Homo sapiens: one gene and its partner. The protein of the gene in region 2 interacts with the protein of the main gene of each other region in a pairwise test. Each region holds a gene or a part of one and is shown on either strand. Other genes may lie near its edges.

The links. The genes of interacting proteins can lie anywhere in the genome.
Region 1: the proteins of SGTA (region 2) and TNFSF12-TNFSF13 interact in binary tests that used the Homo sapiens proteins (3 or more experiments, as listed by UniProt).

What each region holds. Positions count from the first base shown.
Region 1 is NC_000017.11:7,552,028-7,559,064, forward strand, and holds part of TNFSF12-TNFSF13 (TNFSF12-TNFSF13 protein), read left to right. Parts: intron 1-1,559; exon of another isoform or gene 1,560-1,798; intron 1,799-4,750; coding exon 4,751-4,875; intron 4,876-5,071; coding exon of another isoform or gene 5,072-5,323; exon of another isoform or gene 5,324-5,854; intron 5,855-6,254; exon of another isoform or gene 6,255-6,348; intron 6,349-6,722; exon of another isoform or gene 6,723-7,012; coding exon of another isoform or gene 7,013-7,037. Other genes in the region: TNFSF12 (tumor necrosis factor ligand superfamily member 12 proprotein), read left to right, coding at 4,751-4,875, 5,072-5,323; TNFSF13 (tumor necrosis factor ligand superfamily member 13 isoform alpha precursor), read left to right, coding at 7,013-7,037. UniProt on the Homo sapiens protein: Binds to FN14 and possibly also to TNRFSF12/APO3. Weak inducer of apoptosis in some cell types. Mediates NF-kappa-B activation. Promotes angiogenesis and the proliferation of endothelial cells. Also involved in induction of inflammatory cytokines.
Region 2 is NC_000019.10:2,766,265-2,773,301, reverse strand, and holds part of SGTA (small glutamine-rich tetratricopeptide repeat-containing protein alpha), read left to right. Parts: intron 1-4,210; 5' UTR 4,211-4,233; coding exon 4,234-4,333; intron 4,334-5,615; coding exon 5,616-5,722; intron 5,723-6,081; coding exon 6,082-6,166; intron 6,167-7,037. UniProt on the Homo sapiens protein: Co-chaperone that binds misfolded and hydrophobic patches-containing client proteins in the cytosol. Mediates their targeting to the endoplasmic reticulum but also regulates their sorting to the proteasome when targeting fails.

The sequences.
Region 1 (7,037 bases), on a different chromosome or scaffold from region 2:
TGCCCGCCTCGGCCTACCAAAGTGCTGGGATTACAGGCATGAGCCACTGCACCCAGCCAGCTTCTAGATTTTTAACTTGGGTATCTCTGGGAAGAATGATGCCATTTCCTAAGAAGGGATTGACCAAGGAATAAATAGGTTGGGAAGTATGTAAGATAATTATTAACGTTGAGAAGTCTAAAATAAACAAGCGGATAAATGACAATAAAGTAAATTCCAGAAATGGATGGCTGGACATTGTCGACTAGCTTAGGCTAGGTCAGGACGGATAAAGCCAGGAGTCATGGCCATATGGATGGCTTTTTTTTTTTTTTTTTTGAGACAGAGTCTCGCTCTGTCACCCAGGCTGGAGTGCAGTGGTTCGATCTTGGCTCACTGCAACATCTGCCTCCTGGGTCCAAGCGATTCTCCTGTCTCAGCCTCCCAAGTAGCTGAGATTATAGGCGGGTGCCACCACACCCAGCTCATTTTTGTATTTTTTAGTAGAGACAGGGTTTCACCGTGTTGGCCAGGCTGGTCTTGAACTCCTGATCTCAGGTGATCCGCCAGCCTCAGCCTCCCAAAGTGCTGGGATTACAGGTGTGAGCCCTTGTGCCCGGCCTATCGATGGCATTTAAAGCCACAGGATTGGGTGAGACGCCAGGAGAAAGAAGGGCCCCACGAATGAAGCCCTGAGACTCTTGGGCATCTTGAAGTGGAGCTGAGGGGAAAACCAGCAGAGACTGAAAAGAAGCTGGAGAGAGAGGAAGAAACCCAGGGAGGGTGGCATCCTGGATTCGGAGAAACCACTGTTTCAAGGAGGATGTGGCTGTCTGTGTTGAATGCAGCTGAGAGATCACATGAAATGAGAACAGAGAAATGATGGCTGGGTTTGGTAACGTGAAAGTCCTGCTGACCTTAAAGAGGGTGGTTTCAGTGGCATAGTTAGAACAGGAAGGCAGTGTGCATTGGGTTGAGAAGAAAATGAGAAATAAGGAACTGGAGGCAGGGACAACCTTTTTTTTTTTTTTTTTTTTTTTTTTTTTTTTTTTTTTTGTGACAGAGTTTCACTCTTGTCACCCAGGCTGGATCCAGTGCAATGGCACGATCTCGGCTGACCGTAACCTCCACCTCCCGGGTTCAAGCAATTCTCCTGCCTCAGCCTCCCCAGTAGCTGAGATTACAGGCATGCGCCACCACGCCTGGCTAATTTTGTATTTTTAGTAGAGACAGGGTTTCTCCATGTTGGTCAGGCTGGTCTCAAACTCCCGACCTCAGGTGTTCCACCCGCTTCGGCCTCCCAAAGTGCTGGGATTACAAGCATGAGCCACTGCACCCGGCCTAGGACAACCCTTTTTAGAAGTTTCTCTGTAACAAGGAGCAGAGAAATAGGCCAGTAGGTGGAGGGGTGTGTGGACCAAGGAAAAGTTTAGTTCTGTGAACAATACTATTTTCATCTGATCTAACATGTACTGAGGGCTTTCTTGAGATAGGCACTGTGTCTGGCACTTGTGTTTGGTCTTATCTAATCCTCACAACAGCCCTAAAAGGAAGATACTCTAATTACCTCCATTTTACAGATGGAGGTTACACAACTTGTCTGAGGCCATGAGATACTAAGTGGTGGAGCCAAGATTTGAACCCAGCTAGAATGTGCCTGTGTACTGGACATGGTCTGCATGAAAGGCGAGGTGGCTGGTGCAGGGGTGAGGGGTCCATGCAGGGGCCACATCCAAAAAGGGGAGAGGGAAGTTTCCAGAAAGAAGAGAGGACACATCTCCCACCATTACCAGAGGGTCAAAGGAGAACAAGAGACCAGGTGGGTTTGTAGATTTGCTGGGGGGAGATGAGGGAACCTTTGCTCGATGACTTCTAGGTCCTCTGGACAACTAGGGAGATGGAGACAGGAGATTTGAGGAGAAATGGTACAAAATCTCAACTTGCTGATTATGAAAGCAAGCTTCGTGGGGGAATGTAAGATTGCCAGGCAGGACGGAATGTCCAGGTGAGGTTTGTGGCTGGAGACAAGTGATATACCAGGCAAGCCCTCCGTGCTCCTGGGCACACCATGCCCTTAGGCTACAAGCAGCCTTTGCTTAGGCTGGCTTCGTAGCTAGGAATGCCCTCTCTTCTCTGCCCTCCCTACTCTTCATGCCCAGATCAGCCTTCCTCCCCTCTGTATAGACCACTTATTTTGGCAATTATCCAGACATTCATTCATTCATTGACTCAACAGGCATTGAAGACCTACTGTTTGCTAGGGGCCAGGCTAGGTGCCCACAGCAACTAATATCCAGACTCTTTTTTTTTTTTTTTTTTTTTTTTGAGATGGAGTCTCACTCTGTCGCCCAGGCTGGAGTGTAGTGGCGCGATCTCGGCTTACTGCAAGCTCCGCCTCCTGGGTTCATGCCATTCTCCTGCCTCAGCCTCCCAAGTAGCTGGGACTACAGGCGCCCGCCACCACGCCTGGCTAATTTTTTTTTATTTTTTAGTAGAGACGGGGTTTCACCGTGTTAGCCAGGATGGTCTCGATCTCCTGACCTCGTGATCCACCCAACTCGGCCTCCCAAAGTGCTGGGATTACAGGCGTGAGCCACCGCGCCCAGCCGGTCAGACCCATTTTTTTTTTTGAGATGGAGTTTTGCTCTTGTTGCCCCAGCTGGAGTGCAGTGGCGCCATCTCGGCTCACTGCAGCCTTCTCGGGTTCAAGTGATTCTCCTGCCTCAGTCTCCCGAGTAGCTGGGACTACAGGCGCCTGCCACCACGCCTGGCTAATTTTTTTTTTATGTTTTAGTAGAGACGGGGTTTCACCGTGTTAGCCAGGAGCGTCTCGATCTCCTGACCTCGTGATCCACCCACCTTGGCCTCCCAAGGTGCTGGGATTACAGGCGTGAGCCACTGTGCCCAGCCTCAGACCAACTCTTAAGGAGTCACTGTCTAGGAGAGGAAACAAGCATATAAATTTGTAATTACAGGAACATACAAAAAAAATTAGCCAGGTTTGGTGGCACATGCCTGTAATCCCAGCTACTCAGGAGGCTGAAGCATGAGAATCACTTGAACCCGGGAGGCGGAGGCTGCAGTGAGCCGAGATTGTGCCACTGCACTCCAGCCTGGGTGACAAGAGTGAGACTCCATCTCAAAAAAAAATTTGTAATTACAGTGGAATATGACAAGAACAATAATAAAAGTGGCCAAGATACCTGGCAACACAGGGGAAGACAGACATGGCTGTGGAGTCAGGGATTCTCTCCCTGCATCGCAAGGTGCCGCTGGGCCTTGAAGCAGGAGCGTAAGACAAGACAGGCAAGGGGTCAAGAATGGTGGGTGCAAGCAGAAGCAGCCCCTGGGGCAAAAGCCCCGGGTTTGCCCAGAGCATGATGAGGCTGGGGGACTCTAAGTTCAGCGTGGCAGAAGCAGAAAGTGCTAGAGGAGCGAGATGGGGATGAGGCTGGAGACAGAAGCCAGGCCACACGGTGGCATGTGGGAACTATTCTGAGGTGAGCCATCGGAAGGAGGAAGGCGAGGCGAGGCGGGCTTACGTCTGCATCTTAGAGACTCATTCTGTGGCTTTGTGTAGGGAATAAACTGGAGGAAGCCAGAATGGAAACAGGGAATGCTGTGAAAACCAGACAGAGGCACCAGATGGGGGAGAGAGGGGAGAGAGCTATTTAGGAGGCAGGATAGATAGGAACTGGTGATCGATTAATGATGTAGGTAAAGGAGAGGGAGGCTTGAATATCCCCCTGGTGGCAAAACCAGAAGCCAAATGTGGAAAACAGACAGTAAAGCAAGAGTGGGATGAGGGGGGTCAGCTCAGTGTTGGTTGAGATGAGTTTGAGGGGCTATTGCTGTTCAGATGGTGCAGTTGGCAGGGTAAGGAAGGGAAGGAAACTTCAGGGCTGGAGACTCTGCAGAGCACAGGTTGTGGGAACCCATTGGTGGAAATAAAAATGCCCAGTGAGCGTTTTTTTTGTTTTTTTTTTTTTTTGGAGACAGAGTCTAGCTCTGTTGCCCAGGCTGGAGTGCAGTGGCATGATCTTGGTTCACTGCAACCTCCCCATCCCAGGTTCAAGTAATTCTCCTGCCTCAGCCTCCCATGTAGCTAGGATTACAGGTGCCTGCCACCATGCCCTGCTAGTTTTTGTATTTTTAGTAGAGACGGGGTTTCACCTTGTTGGCCAGGCTGGTCTCGAACTCCCGACCTCAGGTGATCCGCCCACCTTGGCCTCTCAAAATGCCGGGATGACAGGCGTGAGCCACTGCACCTGGCTGAGCATGATGTTTTCAAGGCACATCTGTGCCATAGTGTGTATCAGTACTTCACTCTTTTTATGGCCAAATAATATTCCATTATATGGATAGACATTTTGTTGATGGACAATTGGGTTTCATTTTATTATTTTTAGTTGTACTAATTCAGATAATGTATGTTTACATCCTCCATATAAAAGAAGCAAATAATATAGATATCCATGAAGTAAAACATTAAATCCCCTCACGCTTCTCCTTCAGTTCTACTCTTCTCCCCAGAAGTGACTGCAGGTGACAATCTGCCCTGAATGTCTCTGGCCATATACATTAGATTTTTTCACATAACTTCCTAGTCAACTATGGGCATCATAGGGGATGGGTCCTCCCTTGCCCGGGGTGATCTATGTGTCTTCTGGGTAAAGTGGGCGCCGAATGTTCATATGCTCAATGGATCCCTGGGGAGTGTGGGGGAGTCCTGTAGAGAGACGTTTCCTTATCTCTGAGCATCCGTGTTCAGGTGTGGACGGGACAGTGAGTGGCTGGGAGGAAGCCAGAATCAACAGCTCCAGCCCTCTGCGCTACAACCGCCAGATCGGGGAGTTTATAGTCACCCGGGCTGGGCTCTACTACCTGTACTGTCAGGTAAGCCCCATCTGGCTGCATGGGTAACGCAGTAAGAGAGTGGCGAAGGGTTTGCCAGGAGAGTGGGGGACAAGCTACAGGGCTGGGAGGGTGAGTTGGGGTTTGGGTGGGATGGGATGCCTGCGTCGCTGAGGAAATTGGAAATTGAGGCGAGGGCAGGCAGAGGCCTGGACTCGGCCTGTTGTCCCCACCCCAGGTGCACTTTGATGAGGGGAAGGCTGTCTACCTGAAGCTGGACTTGCTGGTGGATGGTGTGCTGGCCCTGCGCTGCCTGGAGGAATTCTCAGCCACTGCGGCGAGTTCCCTCGGGCCCCAGCTCCGCCTCTGCCAGGTGTCTGGGCTGTTGGCCCTGCGGCCAGGGTCCTCCCTGCGGATCCGCACCCTCCCCTGGGCCCATCTCAAGGCTGCCCCCTTCCTCACCTACTTCGGACTCTTCCAGGTTCACTGAGGGGCCCTGGTCTCCCCGCAGTCGTCCCAGGCTGCCGGCTCCCCTCGACAGCTCTCTGGGCACCCGGTCCCCTCTGCCCCACCCTCAGCCGCTCTTTGCTCCAGACCTGCCCCTCCCTCTAGAGGCTGCCTGGGCCTGTTCACGTGTTTTCCATCCCACATAAATACAGTATTCCCACTCTTATCTTACAACTCCCCCACCGCCCACTCTCCACCTCACTAGCTCCCCAATCCCTGACCCTTTGAGGCCCCCAGTGATCTCGACTCCCCCCTGGCCACAGACCCCCAGGGCATTGTGTTCACTGTACTCTGTGGGCAAGGATGGGTCCAGAAGACCCCACTTCAGGCACTAAGAGGGGCTGGACCTGGCGGCAGGAAGCCAAAGAGACTGGGCCTAGGCCAGGAGTTCCCAAATGTGAGGGGCGAGAAACAAGACAAGCTCCTCCCTTGAGAATTCCCTGTGGATTTTTAAAACAGATATTATTTTTATTATTATTGTGACAAAATGTTGATAAATGGATATTAAATAGAATAAGTCATAGTCTCTCTCTTTATTGGGGCTCAGGGGACACTCTCAGGGTAGCTGGGGGCCACGTGAAGGGGGGCGTTGCGGAGCGGCACAGCTGGAACTCCGGGATGATGTTCAGGCTTGGGGGCGGGGACCTCCATGCCTCCAGCCCCCAGGTGGGAGCAGAGGTAGGAAGGCACACTGCCCAGGAAAAAAATCAATCCTCCGCCCAAGGTACAGCAGAAGCGGCCTCCTTGGCCTAGGAGGCAGACTTCCTCCTGCGGGGAAATCCCTTCCTGGCTGGGAGGAGCAGGGGCCCTTCCTCTTGGTGGCCTCGGACATTCAGCAGGTGCTGGCACAGGCCCTGGCTGGGAGGTGGGGCGGGCAGGAGCCAGCCTGGAGGAGGGGCTGAGAGTCAGCAGGCACACGGGAACCCGGAACCCTGTGTGCTGGGGAGGAATCCCGCAGTGGCCGGGGGGCTTGAGGCCGCTGCTTTGTCTCTTCGTCCAGAGCCTTATGTAAGAGCTTTTCTCGGGAAACAGGAAGTCCTGCTTGCCAATTTCAGCACAGGGAGTAGTGCAGGCCTTATTCCAACACACCCGGCCCAGCCTTAACCCCAGAACTCAGCCAGTTTCTTGCTTCCGTGCCCCTGGTTCTCCTCCCCATCGAGCCCACCCCTCCTTTCCCACCTTCAGTCACCCCTAGTGAACTGCCCCAGCGATCTCTGCTGTGCTTGACCCCGAGGGTCTTCCACCCTCGCCCTGACCCTGGACACTGCCCAGCTTGGCCCCCCATCCTGCTCCTGGCACAATGCCCTCTAGCCAGCCAACCTTCCCTCCCCCAACCCTGGGGCCGCCCCAGGGTTCCTGCGCACTGCCTGTTCCTCCTGGGTGTCACTGGCAGCCCTGTCCTTCCTAGAGGGACTGGAACCTAATTCTCCTGAGGCTGAGGGAGGGTGGAGGGTCTCAAGGCAACGCTGGCCCCACGACGGAGTGCCAGGAGCACTAACAGTACCCTTAGCTTGCTTTCCTCCTCCCTCCTTTTTATTTTCAAGTTCCTTTTTATTTCTCCTTGCGTAACAACCTTCTTCCCTTCTGCACCACTGCCCGTACCCTTACCCGCCCCGCCACCTCCTTGCTACCCCACTCTTGAAACCACAGCTGTTGGCAGGGTCCCCAGCTCATGCCAGCCTCATCTCCTTTCTTGC
Region 2 (7,037 bases):
CCATCTCTGCCCTCGGTGTCCCTGCCCTGTGGCCGCGTCACCCATCTCTGCCCTCGGTGTCCCTGCCGTGTGGCCGCGTCACCCATCTCTGCCCTCGGTGTCCCTGCCGTGTGGCCGCGTCACCCACCTCTGCCCTCGGAGTCCCTGCCGTGTGGCCGCGTCACCCACCTCTGCCCTCGGTGTCCCTGCCGTGTGGCCGCGTCACCCACCTCTGCCCTCGGTGTCCCTGCCGTGTGGCCGCGTCACCCATCTCTGCCCTCGGTGTCCCTGCCGTGTGGCCGCGTCACCCACCTCTGCCCTCGGAGTCCCTGCCGTGTGGCTGCGTCACCCACCTCTGCCCTCGGTGTCCCTGCCGTGTGGCCGCGTCACCCACCTCTGCCCTCGGTGTCCCTGCCCTGTGGCCGCGTCACCCATTTCTGCCCTCGGTGTCCCTGCCCTGTGGCCGCGTCACCCACCTCTGCCCTCGGTGTCCCTGCCCTGTGGCCGCGTCACCCATCTCTGCCCTCGGTGTCCCTGCCGTGTGGCCGCGTCACCCATTTCTGCCTTCACATCCACACAGTGTTCTCCCTGTGCATGCGTCTGCATCCAAATGTCCCCTTTTTATAAGGACATTGGTTATTGCTCTAGGGACCCGCCGTACACTGGTATGATGTCATCTTACCAAATTCTGTCCGCCAAGATCTTATTTCCAGGTGAGGTCGCATTCCAAGGTCCTGGCAGTTAGGACTTCAGTGTATGGATTTGGGGGACACAGTTCAGCACACGACAGTATTCAGCCCCTGGAGCCGCCTGTCAGCGTGGCTGCGCGCAGAGGGTCCCTGGGGCCCAGCTGGGGAGTGGGACCTGGCGGCAGAGACCCCTTGCACTGTGCTGGCTCAGAAGGAGGAGCCGTGGCCTCCTGGGTGCTGGGTCAGAGTTTCCTTGTAGGTGTTTGTGGCTTTAGTCACTTCTTGGAGAGCAGATCTGGGCACAGAGCAGAGAAGAATAAGAAATTATCCAGAGGCAGCTGTCACTGTAGAAGATTCCTTCAGGCCTCGCCCTTCCTCGTCCATCCCGAGGCTGGCGGCCTCTTGGCCAGGCCCTGTCTGACCCAGCCTGAATCCGAGCGTCTGATCTCAAACCTGTGCTTCTCCTCACGGTGGTTCCCCAGCTCCTGAGGCCTCAGGCCTGCCCCTTGCCTCATGCGTCTTGGCACACAGAGTGCAACTAAGAATAAGGTCCACTATGCACGGGCTGGGCCCGGCCCCGGAGGAAGGCCGGTGACACACAGCCCCGCCACCCTGTATGTCAGCCAGTGAGGGACAGAGATGGGGAAGACCCAGCTGCTCAGAGACACCAGAGGCCCTGGACAGGGAGTGGATTCCAGGGAAGGCGGCTGCCCAGCCCAGCCCGGAAGGAGCAGGTGGAGAAGGGAGGCCCAGCCAAGGGAACCTCATCGCAAGAACAGAGGATGGGGGTCCCATCCCACGGCCAGGGCCTCCCCAAGGGCTGCCCCTCCATGCGCCAGCACCACAGCAACCCCTCTCCATGCCTGCTTCTGGCCTCAGAGCAGGTTCTCCAAATGCTCCCAGTGAAACTGCACAGCCGGGCAGCGTTTCTGGAATAGCCTCAGCATGTGTTGATCTGGACACGGAGGGTGCACCAGCACCCGTCCACGTACCTGCCTGTGTGGGGGTGTTCACTCAGCGTTGTGCACGCCTGGTCTCGTACCCCTCCCCCCCCCCCCGATGGGGAGGTGCTGTCGCCATCCATGGGGGACAGAAGAGGAAACTGAGGCTCAGCAGAGTTAAGTCGCTTCCCCTAGGTCACACTGCCAAAAACAGCCAACCGAGGTCTATGCCACGAGACTCACCACGAGGAATCATGATTTTTTTTTTTTGACATGGAGTCTCACTCTGTTGCCAGGCTGGAGTGCAGTGGTGTGATCTCAGCTCACTGCAACCTCCAACTCCCTGGTTCAAGTGATTCTCCTGCCTCAGCCTCCCGAGTAGCTGGGATTACAGGCACGTGCCACCATGCCAGCTAATTTTTGTATTTTTAGTAGAGATGGGGTTTCACCGTGTTTGGCCAGGATGGTCTCTGTCTCCTGACCTCGTGATCTGCCTGCCTCGGCCTCCCAAAGTGCTGGGATTACAGGCGTGAGCCACCACGCCTGGCAGAATCGTGATATTAACAACAGATATCGCAGGGCGCCAAGCGCTGGGCTGACAGCTTCCGGGTTATTTTTTCCCCGACCCCTGACAGCAGCCACAATGGAGCTCCCCATTTTACAGACATGGAGGCGGAGGCTCAGGCCGAACAACCCGTCCGAGCTCACAGGCTTTGCAGGCCACGATCCGGGAACCGCCTGGCCTCTCCCTCACAACCCGGCTGGCTTAAAACAACCAAGATTGATTTCCCTCGCAGTTCTGGAGGCCAGAAGTCTGAGATGAAGGTGCAGGCTGGGCCACGTTCCCTCTGAAGGCCCCAAGGGAGGCTCCGTCCTGCCTCTTCCAGCTGCTGGGGGCCAGCGAGCCTCACCTCTCTTCGTGTGGCCACATGGCCTCAGCCTCTGCCTCCGTCTTCACGCGGCCGTCTCCGTGCGGCCATGTTCAATCCCTGCATTAGGGCCACCACAGCGACCTCATCTCCACTTGTTTCCATCTGCAAAGACACAGACAAGGTCCCGTGCTCAGGTCCCAGGTGGACGTGACTAGCCCAGAACTTGGCTGCTCCAGCGGCGGGGGCGGGGGCGGCTGCTTCTCCACGCAGCTTGTTACATCTGAATGTTTAGAGTCACCATCGCCAGCCTTCGGGGGAAATGGAGGCACAGTGAGGCCAAGCCTTCCTGAGCTGGCGCCTCAAGGCAGCCGGCCAGCCTGCCCCGGGGGAAGCTCACGTCGGGGCTTCCTGCTCAGAGCCGTGAAGGTCACTGTGGCCGAGGCCCCTCCAAGTTGGCCCAGGCACCCAGGAAACCTGTGTGAAAGGTCTTGTACTAAAAAAAGACCTGTCCATAGACTACAGCTCCAGATTCCAGAACAGCCTCTCCTGATGTCACCATCTGGCACCCTTTAGAGCTTTGGCAGGAAACTGCAGGGACCACAGACATGAGCAGAAGCAGCTGTCAAGTCCTGGGAATGAGGAACAAGACAGGGTATCCGAGGGGGGACCAGGCGGATGTCCGAGGGGGAACCAGGAGGGTTTCTGAGAGGGAACCAGGAGGGTGTCCGAGGGGGCATCCAGGAGGGTATCCGGGGGGGAACCAGGCGGGTGTCCGAGGGGGGCACAGGCGGGTGTCCGAGGGGGGCACAGGCGGGTGTCCGAGGGGGGAACCAGGCGGGTGTCCGAGGGGGGAACTAGGCGGGTGTCCGAGGGGGGAACCAGGCGGGTGTCCGGTGGGGGAACCAGGCTGGTGTCCGCTGGGGGAACCAGGAGGGTGTCCGGTGGGGGAACCAGGCTGGTGTCCGCTGGGGGAACCAGGAGGGTGTCCGCTGGGGGAACCAGGAGGGTGTCAGGTGGGGGAACCAGGCGGGTGTCCGAGGGGGGCACAGGAGGGTGTCCGAGGGGGAACTAGAGGGGGGTCTGAGGTGGAATGAGGTAGGTAGGCCTCCCAGGGGGAACAAGACGGGTCCCCAAGAAGTCCCTGGGGGGAGTCCTCTGCAAGTCCTGTGAAACAGTGATACCAGGGCAGGCACACCTGGCCCCGTTGGGTACCTAAGAAATGCTTGCTGACATGCCACAAAAGAGGTAAATTGAGGAAAGGGGCAGTGGCTCTGGCTGAGGACAAGGTCTCTCCCTCTCAGCACTGTGGACATTGGGGCTGGATCGTTCTCTGGAGTGGAGCTGTCCTGGGCACTGCAGGGTGCTGGGCAGCATCCCTGGCCCCCACCCACCTCATGCCAGAAGCAGGGGCGGAGGGGACCTCCGTGGCGCCTCAGTACCACCCTGGGAGTGCTCAGGAGGCCCTGGGAGCACGCGGGTTCTCTAGGGCAGGCCCTGCTTGCCTGCTGGCCTCACACTTTCTGGCTGTGTGCATAGCCGGATTGGTGAGCTCTGGGCCTCAGGTCATCATCTGTGAAATGGGCGTATTAAGGCCTTTCTACCTGGGCTGTCCTGGAGCTGAGATCAGCCAGCACCCTTAAAGTGAGGCCCAGCTAGTTAGGGGCAGGCCTGGGGTGCCTGGAGTGGGGAGTGTGAGGGGGCCTGATGGGGGTTTTTCCTGCACCCCCAGGTATCACCTCTTCTGGGCTCAAGATGGACAACAAGAAGCGCCTGGCCTACGCCATCATCCAGTTCCTGCATGACCAGCTCCGGCACGGGGGCCTCTCGTCCGATGCTCAGGAGAGCTTGGAAGGTAGGTGGGTGCCTGCCACTTCCCCCTCTCCCCGGGCAGCGGCCAGCACAGTCGCCTCGTGTAGACACCTGGTGTGTAGATGCCTGGTCCCCCGCCTGGCTTTTTGGGGGTGGAAGCTAAGCCCAGAGAGGGCAGGGGTCTGCCCAGGGCCACACAGCCCCCGGCCGTGGGAGCCAGGGCCGAGCTGAGCCCTCCCGCCTGCCACTGCGTGGCGCCACCACTGCTTGATGCCTTCAGGCTGAGCTGCCTTCCAGTGGCTTTTTTCCATCTCCCCATCTTCCACCAAGGTGTGTTCTGGAATGTTCTCACCACCCAGTGTGTGTGTGTCACCATCGGTCACGGGGAAAAAGCTCTCCTAGTGCTGGCCCCGCCCCAGAGTCCCAGACTCGTTGGCATCCTGCATGGCCTGTCCGCTCCCCAGGTGCCTTGGTCTCCTGGCTGGTCTTGCTTGCGCTTCTGCGACACCTGGATCCGGGGCTCGGAGGGAAAGGAGGGCTCGGGGAGGCACCCTCGTGTGGCTGCAGGTTCTGCTCTAGGTCCTCCTTCCCCACCTATGCCTCGCTCACCTGTGTCCTGGGCCTGCCAGGCCTCTGTAGCATGGACACCCAGTGACAGCTGTAGGGATGTGCCCGGGGTCCTTGACACAGTGCTGGGCAGGAAGTGGCTGACCCCCACTTCTGACCTGGGTTAGGACCCTGGGTCCACACGAGGAGGCGGCCAGGGCTAGTGTTGTCTGGCTCGGTGGGAGGGCCCCCTGGGTGCTGAGTCTGTCAGGTGGGCCAGCAGAGAGAGGGGCCCTGTGGCTGTTTCTTGTCCTGCTCTCAATGGTCCTGCCCTGGTACAGACCCAGTCATACAGGCCTTCTACTGGGGGCTGGCTTCAAGCTCCTTACTCAGGCCAGGCGCCCTTGGAGGTGCAACAGCATCCGGGGCACCTCACCCCTGACGTGGCCCTCCAGGTGGGGCCAAGCCCCCACCACGCCGCAGCCGGGCAGCCCCAGCATTGGGACCCCACAGAGGCCTGAGGTCACCACCTGGGCTCCACTCTGCCCACGGCCTCTGCTGCTCTCAGGGGCACGGGGCGTCTCTGTCTGGCTTTTCTTTTCGGGAAGGAAGAGGGTCCACTGTCCCAGCCCAGAGCACAGGCGGCGGCCCCTGCGTTCTGGGGTCCTTGGGAATGAACACACCTGGGGAAGCATGAGCACCAACCCCGCCCTCTAGACCCAAAAACGTAACCTCGGGGCTGCGTGCAATGAATGGGACCGCCTCTGTCCCCGCTTCAGTCGCCATCCAGTGCCTGGAGACTGCGTTTGGGGTGACGGTAGAAGACAGTGACCTTGCGCTCCCTCAGACTCTGCCGGAGATATTTGAAGCGGCTGCCACGGGCAAGGTGAGCCTCGATGCTTCCCCAGCCACTGCCCCCAAAATAAGAACAGCAACAGCAGGCAGCCCTGGGGACCCCAGGAGCCCCGCTCTCATCGTCCCCCAGCACTCTGCCTGCATCCTCTCCTGGGCTGGGGACGTGGCTGCAGGAGCACTTGGCCCTCCTCCCCCTATCGGCGGGTCCTGAGACACATAGCGCTGTGGTCACTCGCCCAGGGCCACATGATGGGGGGCCAGGAGTCCCCTGCAGAGCCCCCGGGTCCTTCGGAACTTGGTGGCCCTCTCTGGCGTCCCGAGGGAAGCTAAGGCCGGAGGGTGCCAGGTTGGGAGGAGAGGACAGCGGGCCGCCTTTGCCTCCGGGTCCAGGAGATGCCGCAGGACCTGAGGAGCCCCGCGCGAACCCCGCCTTCCGAGGAGGACTCAGCAGAGGCAGAGCGCCTCAAAACCGAAGGTAAGGGAGGACCTCCATCCCCACAGACACCTCGCCCTACCTGGACTCCGGGGCTGTGGGACCCTCGCAGAGGCCAGCTGGTCCCTGGGGCCCAGGGAGCTGAGGGAATTGCCCTGATGACCAGCACGCTGGCTTGTGGGGACGGGGACGGAAGGGGGACTGGCGAGGGGACTGGCGAGGTGCAGAGAAACTTGACCTTCAGGCACAGCACGGCTGGTGGGGTTGTCGGGAGCGGCCCCTGTGGAAGACTGGCTGGTGGCCCCCAAAAGTTGCACAGCTTCCATGAGACCCGCCGGTTCCACCCTGATACTAGATATGTGCCCAAGAGAGACACATGTCCACCAAAACCCAGACACATGTTCACAGCAGCTGTATTCACAAGAGTCAAAAAGCAAGAAGAGGCCGGGCGCGGTGGCTCACACCTGCAGTCCCAGCTCTTTGGGAGGCCGAGGCGGGCAGATTGCCTGAGGTCAGGAGTTCAAGCCTAGCCTGGGCCAACATGGTGAAACCCCGTCTCTACTAAAAATGCAAAAAAATTAGCCAGGTGCAGTGGTGGGCACCTGTAATCCCAACTACTCAGGAGGCTGAGGCAGGAGAGTTGCTTGAACCTGGGAGGCGGAGGTTGCAGTGAGTCCAGATCGCGCCACTGCACTCCAGCCTGGGCGATAAGAGTGAAACTCCGTCTCAAAAAAAAATAAAAAATAAAAAATAAAACAATAAAAAGAAGCAAAAACAGCTTAAATGCCTGTCCACGCTAAATGGTCAGCACAGCATGGCCCATCTACACGGTGGAATGTGGATGGGTGAGGCTCTGACCCAGGCCCCAGCGCAGATGCACCGTGAAGACATCACACTCAGGGAGAGAGGCCAG